Homo sapiens: one gene and its partners. The protein of the gene in region 1 interacts with the protein of each later gene in a biochemical or structural test. Each region holds a gene or a part of one and is shown in the gene's direction. Other genes may lie near its edges.

The links.
Region 2: the proteins of CLDN2 (region 1) and ARHGAP21 interact in a test that uses a peptide from one of them, tested with the Homo sapiens proteins (one large-scale study listed by IntAct).
Region 3: the proteins of CLDN2 (region 1) and PDZD2 interact in a test that uses a peptide from one of them, tested with the Homo sapiens proteins (one large-scale study listed by IntAct).
Region 4: the proteins of CLDN2 (region 1) and LIN7A interact in a test that uses a peptide from one of them, tested with the Homo sapiens proteins (one large-scale study listed by IntAct).

The regions. Positions count from the first base shown.
Region 1 is NC_000023.11:106,919,188-106,923,201, forward strand, and holds the start of CLDN2 (claudin-2), read left to right. Parts: upstream 1-1,214; 5' UTR 1,215-1,364; intron 1,365-4,014. UniProt on the Homo sapiens protein: Forms paracellular channels: polymerizes in tight junction strands with cation- and water-selective channels through the strands, conveying epithelial permeability in a process known as paracellular tight junction permeability.
Region 2 is NC_000010.11:24,585,501-24,587,887, reverse strand, and holds part of ARHGAP21 (rho GTPase-activating protein 21), read left to right. Parts: intron 1-1,781; coding exon 1,782-2,387. UniProt on the Homo sapiens protein: Functions as a GTPase-activating protein (GAP) for RHOA and CDC42. Downstream partner of ARF1 which may control Golgi apparatus structure and function. Also required for CTNNA1 recruitment to adherens junctions.
Region 3 is NC_000005.10:32,083,131-32,086,630, forward strand, and holds part of PDZD2 (PDZ domain-containing protein 2), read left to right. Parts: intron 1-3,500.
Region 4 is NC_000012.12:80,931,435-80,934,934, reverse strand, and holds part of LIN7A (protein lin-7 homolog A), read left to right. Parts: intron 1-3,500. UniProt on the Homo sapiens protein: Plays a role in establishing and maintaining the asymmetric distribution of channels and receptors at the plasma membrane of polarized cells.

The DNA.
Region 1 (4,014 bases):
ATAGTGTGATTCAATTTTATAAAACAAATCCCATCGATATCTTCTACAATACATCAAAATGTTAGCAATGATTATTTCTGGCTGGTGGCATTATGAGGACCTCTATTTTCTTCTTTATAATTCATTTTCTGAATTCTTTTCAATAGCATCTAGTATTTTTCTACTTAGAAAAAACTAGAAAGCTTTTTTGCGTTGGGAGAGTAAAGCCAGTCACTGCGCTCTACTACTCCACAGCATGTTTTTTTGTTTGTTTGTTTTGGTTTGGTTTTATTTCTGTTGTTGTTTGGGTTTTTGTTTGTTTGCTTTGCTTTTTTGAGATGGAGTCTCACTCTGTCACCCAGGCTGGAGTGCAGTGGTATGATCTCGGCTCATTGCAACCTCCGCCTCCTGGGTCCAAGTGATTCTCCTGCCTCAGCTTCCCGTGTAGCTGGGACTACAGGTGCGCACCACCACATCCAGCTAATTTTTGTATTTTTAGTAGAGACAAGGTTTAACCGCGTTGGCCAGGCTGTTTTCGAACTCCTGACCTCAGGTGATCCACCCGCCTCGGCCTCCCAAAGTGCTGGGATTACAGGCGTGAGCCACTGCACACGGCCTTCACAGCACTTTTGAGAGGCTTAAATGACATAGTGCATGGCACTGCCATGTGTGGTAAAAAGGAGAGCCCTGTCCTTATGCTGGCCTACTCAGTTCCACCTTGTAGGACCTGCTCTTTGAACTCAGAGTCTGAACCTACAGTACCCATGTTTGCCCTTGAGCCTTGGGACCAACCTTAGGGGTGGGGTAGGGCTGAGGGCCTGCCAGAGAATCAAGCTGAGTAGAAAAGTCTATGGAGCTGCAGGCCATGCAGGGCTGCTTGGGCACTGGCTCACCAGGGCTGTGTTTATGCAGCTTACTCCCTGCTGGGCTTCAGGGCTGCTAGCCAGGGACACCTAATTGGTGGGACAGAGCCCCCTCCTCTCACCACCCTCAAAGCTGGAATGTTCTGAATTCCTTCTTGGGCCAAATCCCCCTCCCCACAAGGCCTCTCCTGGGTTCACAGAGGTCACCACACAAAAGCCCAGCTGGAGTGGAGTTTTTGACAGAAAAAAAAAAACACACACAGAAAACCCACCAAACCTTTTTTTTTTTTTTTCTAAAGTGCCTCAATCTTTCCCAGCCTCCAGGGGTTTAATTCTGATCTGTAATAAGTCTCTGACCCACGGCTCAGATTTGCAGATGGATTTTGCAAAGCTGTGGTTAACGATTAGAAATCCTTTATCACCTCAGCCCGTGGCCCCTTGTACTTCGCTCCCCTCCCTCAGGATCCCTTTCTCCCTCTCCAGGGGCATCTCCCCCTCCAAGGCTCTGCAAAGAACTGCCCTGTAAGTATCTCCATCCTGATATAGTTGCTGCCTTTTAAATTCACCGAGGTGGGCACTCTTCCTTCCTAGTCACTATCCATTCACCCCATGGTGGAGCCAGGCTGGGCCACCTTGGGTTTCTGAGTGAAGGGTATGGGAGGGGAAACTCCGGTGGCATTTGGGTTGGTGGTATTTGTTCCCTCAAAGCTATCACAAAGGTTCAAATCTTTAAAACTTCAGGACCAGAGAAAGCACTCTCCAAATCAGATATTTTCTGGTTTGGGGGCTTAAAAGGACTGGGATAAAAATTGGAGGAAGGGAGCCACAGTTTACCCCTCTGCCTAAGTGTAGGGGACTGAGGAGTGGCAGAAGGGGCACTCCCTCACAGCCAGCTCCAGTGCCCTCCTTGGCATGAAGGCTCAGGGAGGTAGCAGAAGGTGGGTTCCTAAGTGAAGTCATAAAGTTTCCCCATGAGGTCCTTCAAGGACTCTCCCTCACTGGTCTGCAAGTCTGTCATTAGAAATTCCTTCTTTCGACTGAGGTATTACTCTCTTCAAGTGCCCTCTTTGAAAATGCAGTTGGAACCAAAACATTCACAGCACTTATGGCCGGGGAGATCGTAGGCGATTTTTGTTTTCTAAATTCTGCCTTTCTGTGTTTTCCAGTGTTCTAAAGTGAGAATGCTTTACTTTGATGATCAGGACAAAAATCAACTTCTTTTTCAAACAATAAGAAAATCTCTCAATCCAGTTGCAATTCTCTGAACTGCCATCAATCAATTGATGTAGAAGGAAAGATGAACTGCTCTAAGGACAAACTTTCAAGAAAGTAGGGCCTCAAGGGAATGGCTTTGCCACCTACTAGTGCCCTTGGCAGCTGGAAGTGAGTTTCAGAGAAGGGGGCAAGTGTCTCAGATTCTTATGAGGGGCAGTGAGATCAAGGGATATAGAAATGAGGCTGACTGACAGAAGAGGGCTGTGGTGGCCATCATCACCCCCAGAAGGCCACATCAGTTCCTTCCTTGAGCCTGGGAACCCCAAGTGCCCTGTCCCATGTAGTCTTAGGAGGGTACTGCCAAAGAAAGAGTACCATGCACAAGACTCTTGGAGCAAGAGATGGGGAGAATAGCAGGGAAAGTACCTAGGTGAGAAGGGGTTAAGTCAGGAGCTGCGGTCAATCTTGACCCTCCTAATCCTCTCCTGCAGCTCCAATCTCCCCACTAGGGAAGATTAAGTAAGGATCCTAAGTTAAACTTTCTTGCCCAGTCCTTGGGCCATGGAGTATGTTGGCCCTATGCCCAGAAGACAAATTCAGCTGACAAGGCCTAGAGTCCTCTGTACCTCCAACGCAGCCAGTACTTGACTTCTAGGAGGATCCCTCAAAGAGAGGCTTCTATTAAAACTGGCTGCTTCTAATAACAGCTCTTCAGTCTTCTATATTTGTCAAAGTGGCTTCCTGTCCCCATGCCTTTATTTGAGACTAAAAATCTTGGAGATGACAAACTAGGGCCTAGAGAAGCTATAGGACTTCCTCAGCAGGTTCTAGGCAGAACTGACACAACAAGAAGCTAGATCTTTTGATTCTAACACCAGGACCCTGTCTGCCCTCACCTCTACTGCTCATCAGACAAACAAAAACCTGGCTGAATCCAGCCTGTCTCACCACCCAACCATTCGCCATTTAGCTGGTCTTCCTAACTCTGGTGGAAAGCTGAACCCCCCCTCCATGGGGCCATTTCTATCACTTGAATAAGCTCCAATAACTTGTTCTTCCTCCTGCCTGGGCATGCTGCTATGCCAAGTCAGACTCTAGAGATTCCAAGCCTCAGTAATGGCATTTTCTTGACTCTGCCCTCTCCCTCACCCCAAAACACTTGCCTACTTACTACTACTTAGGACAGGCTCTGGGGAGAGGCTTTCCTCTTGGGGACACTGTTGATTCCCTTGGGAAACTCAAGCTTGACTCTTCAGCTGCCATCCCAGGAAGGCTGAAGCAGGAGCTGCTCCTCTGGGAAGCAGTAGGTCTTCCCCTTGAAAACCTCAAGGTATCTCACCAATTCTCACTGAAAGCTCAGATACAAATAGGAGGAAGAAAGGAAAAGTATTGAACCCAGCCTGGGTGAGGAGCAGGGAGGGCCCAAGGATGGTTTCAAGGCAAGGATGCATCCTCAAAGATGATTTGCAATTATCCAAGCAAATGGTGGATGGTAGAATAGCATGCTTACGGGCTTGGAGACAGAGAGAAAGGCAGTCAGAGAAATTCAAGTGCTTAGGTTTGGCTGGATCATATGTGTATGTATAGGAGCATAAAGCATGAGGTTGGAGGTTAATGGTGTGAGATGAGGCTGTGAAGAAAAGCCGGGGTGAAATAATGGAGGGCTTTCTTGGTTTCCTGGGCTAGCAAGTTTGAACTTCATCCTGAAATACTTAAGAGCTCTGAAGATTTTTTTTTTTTTTTTTTTTTGAGACAAAGTTTTGCTCTATCGCTCAGGCTGGAGTGCAGTGGCACAATCTCGGCTCACTGCAACCTCCACCTCCCGGTTCCAGCGATTCTCCTGCCTCAGCCTCCCTAGTAGCTGGGATTACAGGCACATGCCACCACGCCCAACTAATTTTTGTATTTTTCGTAGAGACGGGGTTTCACTATGTTGGCCAGGCTGGTCTCAAACTCC
Region 2 (2,387 bases), on another chromosome or scaffold:
GATATCCCAATGACATGATTAACTACTTCTAACAAACAGTCTCTGTAGAAAAGTAGAGTAATTTGCCTCAACACATATATGATCATAGAATTGTAAAGAGAACCTTAAGGAAATCTGAAAGACAGTATAATCTAATTGCTTCTCGCCACGGAACTGAGATGTTTAAAAGTGAATCCCTTGCTCGTACCCAGCAAGCTAGAGAGGATGGACATCAAGGTCTCCCAATTGAGAGCCCAGTCACAACCATTATCCCCTACAGTCTTCAGCACAATGTGGGGAAATGTAAATAACCATTAGAAATGTGCTGGATAATTATGAAAGTCTTTATAACTTGTAAAAACAAAGTTCTGTTCATCTGTGATTTCATCTTAGCGAATTTTTGATAGAACAGCCTAAATTCTTTGATAGAACAGCCTAAATTTTTACTTTAAGACTTTAAATAGAGCAGTTTTAACTTGTCTAAGATTTGCAGGCAATAGAGAAATATACTGTCTGTTTCTATTACTCAGCATACCTCCTGCCTACCTGCTTGTCTTAAAAAGTGTGTGGTAAACCAGCAGATATTTAGGAAGAAACTAATAGTTGCAATCAAGAACCTATTATATCTAGATGCAGTGGCTCATGCCTGTAAATCCTGGCACTTTGGGAGGCTGAGGTGGGAGGATAGCTTGAGACTAAGGCTTCTAGACCAGCCTGGGCAACATGGTGAAACTCCATCTTAAAAAATTTTTTTTAAAAGAACCTATTATACATAGCAAATAACTTTCCCAATAACACTGCACTACAGTGTTTCTGTGGTAAGGATTTAATTGTACTTATGTTAATTGATCTTTCCTTTCTACCTTCCTGGGGTGGGTTCTCACTCTGTCACCCAGGCTGGAGTGCAATGGTACCCTCATGCTCACTGCAGCCTTGACTTCCCCAGGCTCAGGTGATCCTCTGACCTCGGCCTCCCAAGTAGCCAGGACCACAGGTGCGTGCCACCATGCCCACTTAATTTTTTGTAGAGACAGGCCTTCACCATGTTCCCTAGGCTGATCTCGAACTTCTGGGCTCGAGCAATCTGCCCGCCTCAGCCTCCCAAAGTGCTGGGATTACAGGCATGAGCCACCACACCTGGCCTGTTTTTTGAATATTCTAATTCCATTGTTACCTTGAGATAAATGAAGACATTACCAACCTGATTTACTTAAGGCAGATCCTTGAAGATCCTGCCTGAATGAACTAATGGAAGACCAGAGTTCCCTTATCTCAATGAGCTTATCTGATACAGTATCTATATCATGTGGTACCTGTAATTAGAAAAATCAAAGTCAGTCATAAACATTTAATAACCTATATCAGAATGTGATGTTTAATAACCTATATCAGAATATGATGTTTGACCGTGTCACAATATTGTTTTACCTATCCCATGCCTCTATTCCAAATGAAGGAAGTGAAGAATGCCTGGGCACTGTGGAAGGAGGGAAGGTCAGGTGTTTGGGGGATTTTGATAGGAATCAGCACTAAGCACAGACTATTTTCCTGAAAGGCAGATGTGTATGAGCTGTGGCTTGGCAGTTAAATACCACGAGGCAAGAAATTGGACTCATTAAATAAAAATTTGACTTTGGTTCAAGGTAAAAAGAGGTATTAAAAAAAAAGCTAATTGCACTGTTAATGCTTCCAGAGCTTTAGTAGATATAATTTGATAAGAAATATTTGGGAGACAAGCTTGTCAGAAAATGAACTCAGCTGCATTCTTATGCTCAGAGTCTTTCTTCTCTCTTGCTTCCCAGGGTTCTTGGGGATCTGGAAAGGATCAGTATAGCAGGGAACTGCTTGTGTCCTCCATCTTTGCAGCTGCTAGTCGCAAGAGGAAGAAGCCGAAAGAAAAAGCACAGCCTAGCAGCTCAGAAGATGAACTGGACAATGTATTTTTTAAGAAAGAAAATGTGGAACAGTGTCACAATGATACTAAAGAGGAGTCCAAAAAAGAAAGTGAGACACTGGGCAGAAAACAGAAGATCATCATTGCCAAAGAAAACAGCACTAGGAAAGACCCCAGCACGACAAAAGATGAAAAGATATCACTAGGAAAAGAGAGCACGCCTTCTGAAGAACCCTCACCACCACACAACTCAAAACACAACAAGTCACCAACTCTCAGCTGTCGCTTTGCCATCCTGAAAGAGAGCCCCAGGTCACTTCTGGCACAGAAGTCCTCCCACCTTGAAGAGACAGGCTCTGACTCTGGCACTTTGCTCAGCACGTCTTCCCAGGCCTCCCTGGCAAGGTTTTCCATGAAGAAATCAACCAGTCCAGAAACGAAACATAGCGAGTTTTTGGCCAACGTCAGCACCATCACCTCAGATTATTCCACCACATCGTCTGCTACATACTTG
Region 3 (3,500 bases), on another chromosome or scaffold:
TTTGAGTCTTGTGCGTATATGGGTGTGAATAAATATATAGTCCTGTGCTTTTTTTGTCTTTTTGCCAAAAAAAAAAAAAAAATCCACTGTGGTAGTCACCAGTACCTAACAACCTTTTTAAACCTCATACATCCACACGAAATAATATTTGAGCAGCCTGCTGGCATCAGTAAGACTGCTCCTCAGCCCATGGGCCTGACCTAGCAGGCTGTCCCTCGCACTGACCACTCTGCTGTCAGCACACCCATAGCCTACTCTAGGAAACCGCACTGCTATCCTGCAGGCTCTTCTACACCCGACATCACCTGGAGAGGCTGCTGGGCCTTCCACCCCACGGATGTGCTGTAACGAGTCAACCTTCCTCCCATGATTGGGCATTTCGAACGTTTCCAGAGAAAAGGTTGTCTTGAAAGGTGACAACCAAAGGCTGCCTCAGTGTAACCTCGTCTCCCTCAGATGAAGACCTTTTAAGTTACAGACTTTGCAATAAAGTCAAATTGCTAACATGAATTGCCTGTTTAGGTTTATTCAGTGAGCGAATATGAAATTTGTTTATTTTTGAGACGGATTCTTGCTCTGTCGCTCAGGCTGGATGGAGTACAGTGGCTCGATCTCGGCTCACTGCAACCTCCGCCTCCCAGGTTCAGGCAGTTCTCCTGCCTCAGCCTCCCAAGCAGCTGGGATTACAGACGTGCACCACCACACCTGGCTAATTTTTGTATTTTTAGTAGAGATGGGATTTCCCCATGTTGGCCAGGCTGGTTTCGAACTCCTGACCTCAAGTGATCTGCCTGGCCTCAGCATCCCAAAGTGCTGGGATTACAGGCATGAGCCACCGCCCACGGCCTGAATATGAAATTTAAAAACAGAGTTTAAATCCCCTCCTTTTGTGTCATTGCTACTCCCCACCACCACCCGCACTACCGCCCATATTTGCTGTCACCAGAAGCAGGAACATTATGCTTAAGGGGAAGTTCAAAAAAGGTTGAGCAGAGAAGGAGAAGAGCACGTGGCTTTGAGTCTTGGCAGGCCCCTGGCCTTCCACAGTGGGCCTGGAAAGCTAGTAGCTAGTACGGTCTCCATGGGGATCTCGACGATCCAACCTTTTGATTGCCAAGGGCTCTCCACACAGAGGCCACATAGTCAGGGTTTAGGCAGTAGCATGGGCTGTGGAGCCAGCTTCCTGGGGCGACCGCTGGCTCTGCCACCTGTGAACTCTGACCTCAGACACATTGCTTAACCACGCTGTTTCTCCGTCCTCATCCTTCCAATGCAGATGGTCACAGGACATACCTCAGTGTTAGGAGGAAAATTAAATGTGTACAAAACTCTTAGCACAGTGTTAACTCCTTAATTATTGGAAAACCTCTTAGCACAGGGCTGAGTCCTAATAATTAGTTCTTAATTATTCACATAGCAAGGTCAGCAGGTTAAAAAAATGCAATTAAGATGATTTTATGTGAGAGCTGTGGAACGAACATAATATTTGGGGAAGAGTTGGTTTGACTTAATTCTCAAACCAAGAGCTTTCATGGAACTTCATTTTTCACTCCAACCTCAGACCCATAGTTCCTAAGAAAATAGCTTTGTTCTTTCTGATGCCAGATTTTTTTTCCCTGTTGCAAGATGCTGTGTGTCTGAGGTGGAAGATTAGCCCAAGACTATGCAGGGCCTTATGAACAGGCACTTTCAGGAGTGAGTGGCTGTTGGAACCCACCTCCTAGATGACTTCCCACTGTCCACTGGCACACATCCCCTTGCCCTGCCACCTCCAAGATTTCAGGCTCTTTCTTGCTTCTCTGCTTTCATTCTGTTGCCTTTTTTTTTTTTTTTTTTTTTTTTTTGAGACAGAGTCTTGCTCTGTTGCCCAGGCTTGAAGGCAGTGGTGCAATCTCAGCTCACTGACCTCTACCTCCTGGGTTCAAGCGAATCTCGTGCCTCAGCCTCCCAAGTAGCTGGGATTACAGGTGCATGCCACCATGCCTGGTTAATTTTTGTATTTTTCGTAGAGATAGGGTTTCACCATGTTGGCCAAGCTGGTCTCAAACTCCTGACAAGTGATCCACCTGCCTTGGCCTCCCAAAGTGCTGGGATTACAGGCGTGATCCACCGTGCCCAGCTGCCTTTTTTTTTTTTTAATTGACACATAATTGTACATACTTATGGAGCACAAAGTGGTACTTCAGTACATATATACATTGTGCAATGATTAAATCAGGGTAATTAGCATATCCATCACATCAAATGTATCATGTCTTTGTGGTAGGAACATCCCAAATTCTCTCTTCTAGCTATTTCAATAAATGCAATACCTTATTATTATTTTTTTTTTTTGAGACGGAGTCTTGCTCTGTTACTCAGGCTGGAATACAATGGCATGATCTTGGCTCACTGCAACTCCACCTCCCAGGTTCAAGCGATTCTCCTGCCTCAGCCTCACAAGTAGCTGGGATTACAGGCGTGTGCCACCACACTCAGCTAATTTTTGTATTTTTAGTAGAGACGGGAATTTCACCATGTTGGCCAGGCTGGTCTCGAACTCTTGACCTCAGGTGATCCACCCGCCTTGGCCTCCCAAAGTGCTGGGATTACAGGCGTGAGCCACCATGCCCAGCCCTGTTTTTGTTGTGTTGTTGTTGTTTTGTTTTGTCTTTTGTTTTTTTTACACTCAAACTGCCTTGGCTATTCAGAGTCCTTTGTGGTTCCATGCACATTTTACAACTGTTTTTTTTTTTTCTATTTCTGTAAAAAATGTCATTGGAATTTTGGTAGGAATTGTACCGAATCTATAGATGACTTTGGGTAGTATGGACATTTTAACGGTACTCTTCCATTGTCTTCCTTACCTTCCTCCTCCTCACTCTCTGGCCAAACTCCCCTTGTCAGCCCCATTCATGTCCCCACCTCCTCTGTCAAGTCTTCCTGGGATAATCTGGCTTCTCACTCTCCCACTCCTCTGAATTCGTCAAGACAGCCAGAGCTCGGTGTAGACCTGTATCCCAGCTTTCGTATTCTGTATGTTTTCCCTAGTTAGCCTCAGCCCCTGCACTAAAAAGGAAGCCTCTTGAGCTCGGCACTTGGACTGTTTTACACTGAAGTACATCATTCACATCCCCCAGTGTGAGCCAAACCCACACACCACTGGCCAGATACTGGGACTGAGAGGTCCATGAGGGCCCTGCTGCATCCACGCAGGAGTAGGGAACCAAATAGAACAAGAGCCTGACGCTTGCGGCTTTGCCATCAGAGGGTGAATGGCATAAAGAGACCCAAGTGTGCAATGATTAAATCAGGGTAATCAGCATATCCATCACATCAAATGTATCATTTCTTTGTGGTAGGAACATCTGCCATCATAGAAATACCAAAAGAGAGAAAAATGGGCAGATGTAAATGTTTCTTCTGCCGGCTAATCTGAGTTCTCTTAGAGCGTCTAAAGCAGGGTGGTATTTGTTAGATGTGGGTACTCTATAATTTTAGAGAGAAAACCAGGAAGACAA
Region 4 (3,500 bases), on another chromosome or scaffold:
GTAACAATAGCTCACTAAAACTGTGATGTTTAACCAAGAGGAATTGTGGCAGGTGGGCAAAGGAGAGGAAGGGAAGAAGGTGCTTGACAAAGCCTCCCAAGGGCATCCCAGCAAATCTGAATATATAATCCACAATTTTAGAGCTGCTAGTTCTTTTTTGGTATCTTCATTTTACAAATGAAAAAGCATGAAAATGTGATGATAAGAGATATTTTCAAGTTGCTCTACTATTTAGTGGAGATTTTTATATTACAATTGAATTATTTTTGTTTGCTACCTTTTGACATCATACATGGATATAGTCTTCAGGGCAAATGTTTTAAGCAAACAAATCAAAGCTAGGGATCGAAATTAAGATTTACTGCTTTCCAAATTTGAAAGATATATCTGAAAGTAAGAAACTCAGAAGTCTGCACCTAGCTTCCTGGGTCTGCTCTGGGAAGTAAGCTTTTTCAAGGTCTAGGCTGGGCCCCAAAAGGATGAACAAGGTGATTACAGATTTTCATGGCCCTGTGCCTATCCAAAACTCTTTTTGATCTGCCATTAAGATCTGAGATCAACCCTGTAAAGGTCTCTGGGTGGCTATGGTCATTGTAAGTTCTTATTGACTTTGGTCCCAGTCCTTGATATCCTTCACTTAATGAGTACCTATCATAAGCCAGACCCTATTGTGGGATTGGTACACACTGGTGTGATAAAGAGACATAATTCTACTTTTTGTGGTAATTAGAACCTACTAGGAGAGGGAGATTAAAATACACACAGAGGCAAATATTAATTCATTCAATATTCATTTATCACCTTCTATATGCAAGATGCTGGAGGAATACCAGAAACAAAAGTTTCTGCTTTTGTGGTCCTTACGAGTCTAATGGGAGAGATGGATGATAAGTAAGGGCTTAATTAATTAATTTAACAAATAAATATTGTGCACCAGACTTACGCCAAACATTGTTTTATACACTGTGCCAGTGCTAATGGACAAAATAAATAAAATCTAATGGCATTTGCATGCTAATGAGAGTCACACAATGAACACACACATAAACAACTACAAGTGCCAAGGAGAAGAAATAAAACTGGGTAAAGGAGAGTGCTATAAATGGGGGCTGCTGTTTTAGATGTGTTAGTAAAGGAACACCCTCCTGAGTCAGTGACATTTGAGAAGAGTCCTGTAGAAAGTGAGGAGGCAAAGTTGCAGATACCTGGGGAAATGTCCTCAGGAGGGGGAACTCCTGTGCATACTGGGAACAGCCAGGAAGGTCAGTGTGAAAAAGTGAGAGAGGGAAGAATATGAAAAATGGGATGTGTAAAGTTGGTAGCCGGGGGTCAGATGATGTAACTCATAATTAGAATTTCAGATTAGTTGAAATTTGAAGTGCTCTGAAGAAAATAAACATGTGGTTGGAATAGAGAATAACAGAGAAGGGCCTGTTTGGTTAGCATTGGTCGAGGAAGGCTCACTGAGAAAGCAAAATTTAAACTACGTTTTGGTGTATTAGATTAATAAGATCTTTAGGAAAAGCATTCTGGAGAGAGTGAAGAGTATACATAAAAGCAGGTCCACAGTCACAACTTATCTGTCTTTCAGTTTTTACATTTATAACCAAGAAAATGATCAAAAACTGAAATTACCAAGAAATAATAACGCATTAATTATGCATCCTGGGGTAGAAATTTAATTATATATTAAGAAAATCTATAGATCAGCTTTTTGCTTCTTTGTATTACAAGGCTAAAACATCATATATTATAATTCGATTTTTAGAAATATACTGAGCACTGTAATTTACATGTCACTATGCATAAATCTACATGTTGAATCCAAGTGGTCATAAGAGGAGATATATTCAATTTTAGTCCAATATTTTATGTTAGACAGTGGTATAGAAAGTAGTACATGTCATTTACCCTTGTAACAAAGAGAAGATACTGATAAGGAGATTAGTGTGGAATTCTTCTCTTCCAGACCTTAAAATGTTCATAGCAACTCTTCTCTACATCAGAGGTTAGTTTGCTCAGATTTTAATCTTTAAAACCAGGAATGACCTTCAGCTAAACTCAAGGGAACAAAGAAGAATGCAATCCTTAATACTTAACACGTGGATATTAAAGAACATAGAAATGCTTCAGGAATTAAAGACCGCATGGATTTAGGGACTTTCTAAAGTATGGTAGCTCCAATTCTCCTTCACTTTTCATCTCAAGGTCAGAGAAGATAATACAAAATAACTCTTCAAATTTTACTTTTGCTTACTCTGTTCCCTTAATTTTTAAGCCAAATGGCTCTTGAATACTCATGGCTTATGAAGGAATAATACAAAACCAACTCTTGGAGAAAAATGAATAATTAAAACATTTCTAATACTTTCCTTATGACATGATTAGTAGCTTCCAATCTGCATTTAAATGCTTACATAAGATACAAGGTTGGTATTACTATCATCTAACTTTTCCGTGAGTTAAATTCATTTTGGACAAGTTGCAAAAATGAAAATGGAAATCTTTATTTCTTGGCTTCTAAAATAAGTCGTAATTTAAAATATTGATTAAACAAATCCTAGTGTGCTTTTCATTTAAGACAAATCAAACTTTTGTCCTTTAAAAAATCTGCTATAAAACCAAGAACTTTTATTTTGTGGATTTCAACCTTATGGAAAACAAGTATAAGAACAAAAATTGAATGCAAATAACTATCCCATGGGTGCCACACTTGTCATAGAATTTGTGATACATTACAATTTTTCTCTTTTCCCTTTTCACTTTTCAAGGCAGGCAGAGCTTATTACTTCATGCGTCTTCCGATTCAAGCCCTGGGAAGCCTATAGGTTTTCTAATCAGCTTTATTCACTGGTTTTTATAAAATCTGTATTTGCCAGAAAATTGCTTTTGCTTACACTCCAGAGGGGTTTGCCCCTTCTCTTGCTCCTAGTTTGTTTGTTTGTTTTAATTTGACACGGAGAAAGATTAAGGAAGAAGGAAAATAAAAATTAGGTTAGTCTTTATGTCGTTTTCAAGATGTATGCCCTGGTGTTTTGATCAGGGGTAGAAAAGAGGAGGGCTGACTATATTTTATGTCTCTTGTCCTAAATCCTTCCCATAGCAGCAGCCGCATGTGTTTTAGTGTACAAACAAGTAAGCGCTTGCTTGCTCTCTCATATTTTCTCTGGGCTCCAGCAAATATTAAAAAATTGAACTGAACTTTTTTATTTCTTTGTAAATCAATGAGTGTTTCCTTTCACACTATATAGTTACAAAACACTCCAGGAGTTTTCCATTTTTTTTTTTTTTTTCTTTTTGACAGAGTCTTGCCCTGTTGCCCAGGCAGGAGTGTGGTGGTGTGATCTCGGCTCACTGCAACCTCAGCCTTTTGGGTTTAAGCGATTCTCTGGCCTCAGCCTCCCGAGGAGGCAACAGGCAACACCACCAGGCCCAGCTGATGTTTTTGTATTTTTTAATAGAGACGGGTTTTTGCCATGTTGGCCAGGCTGGTCTGGAAC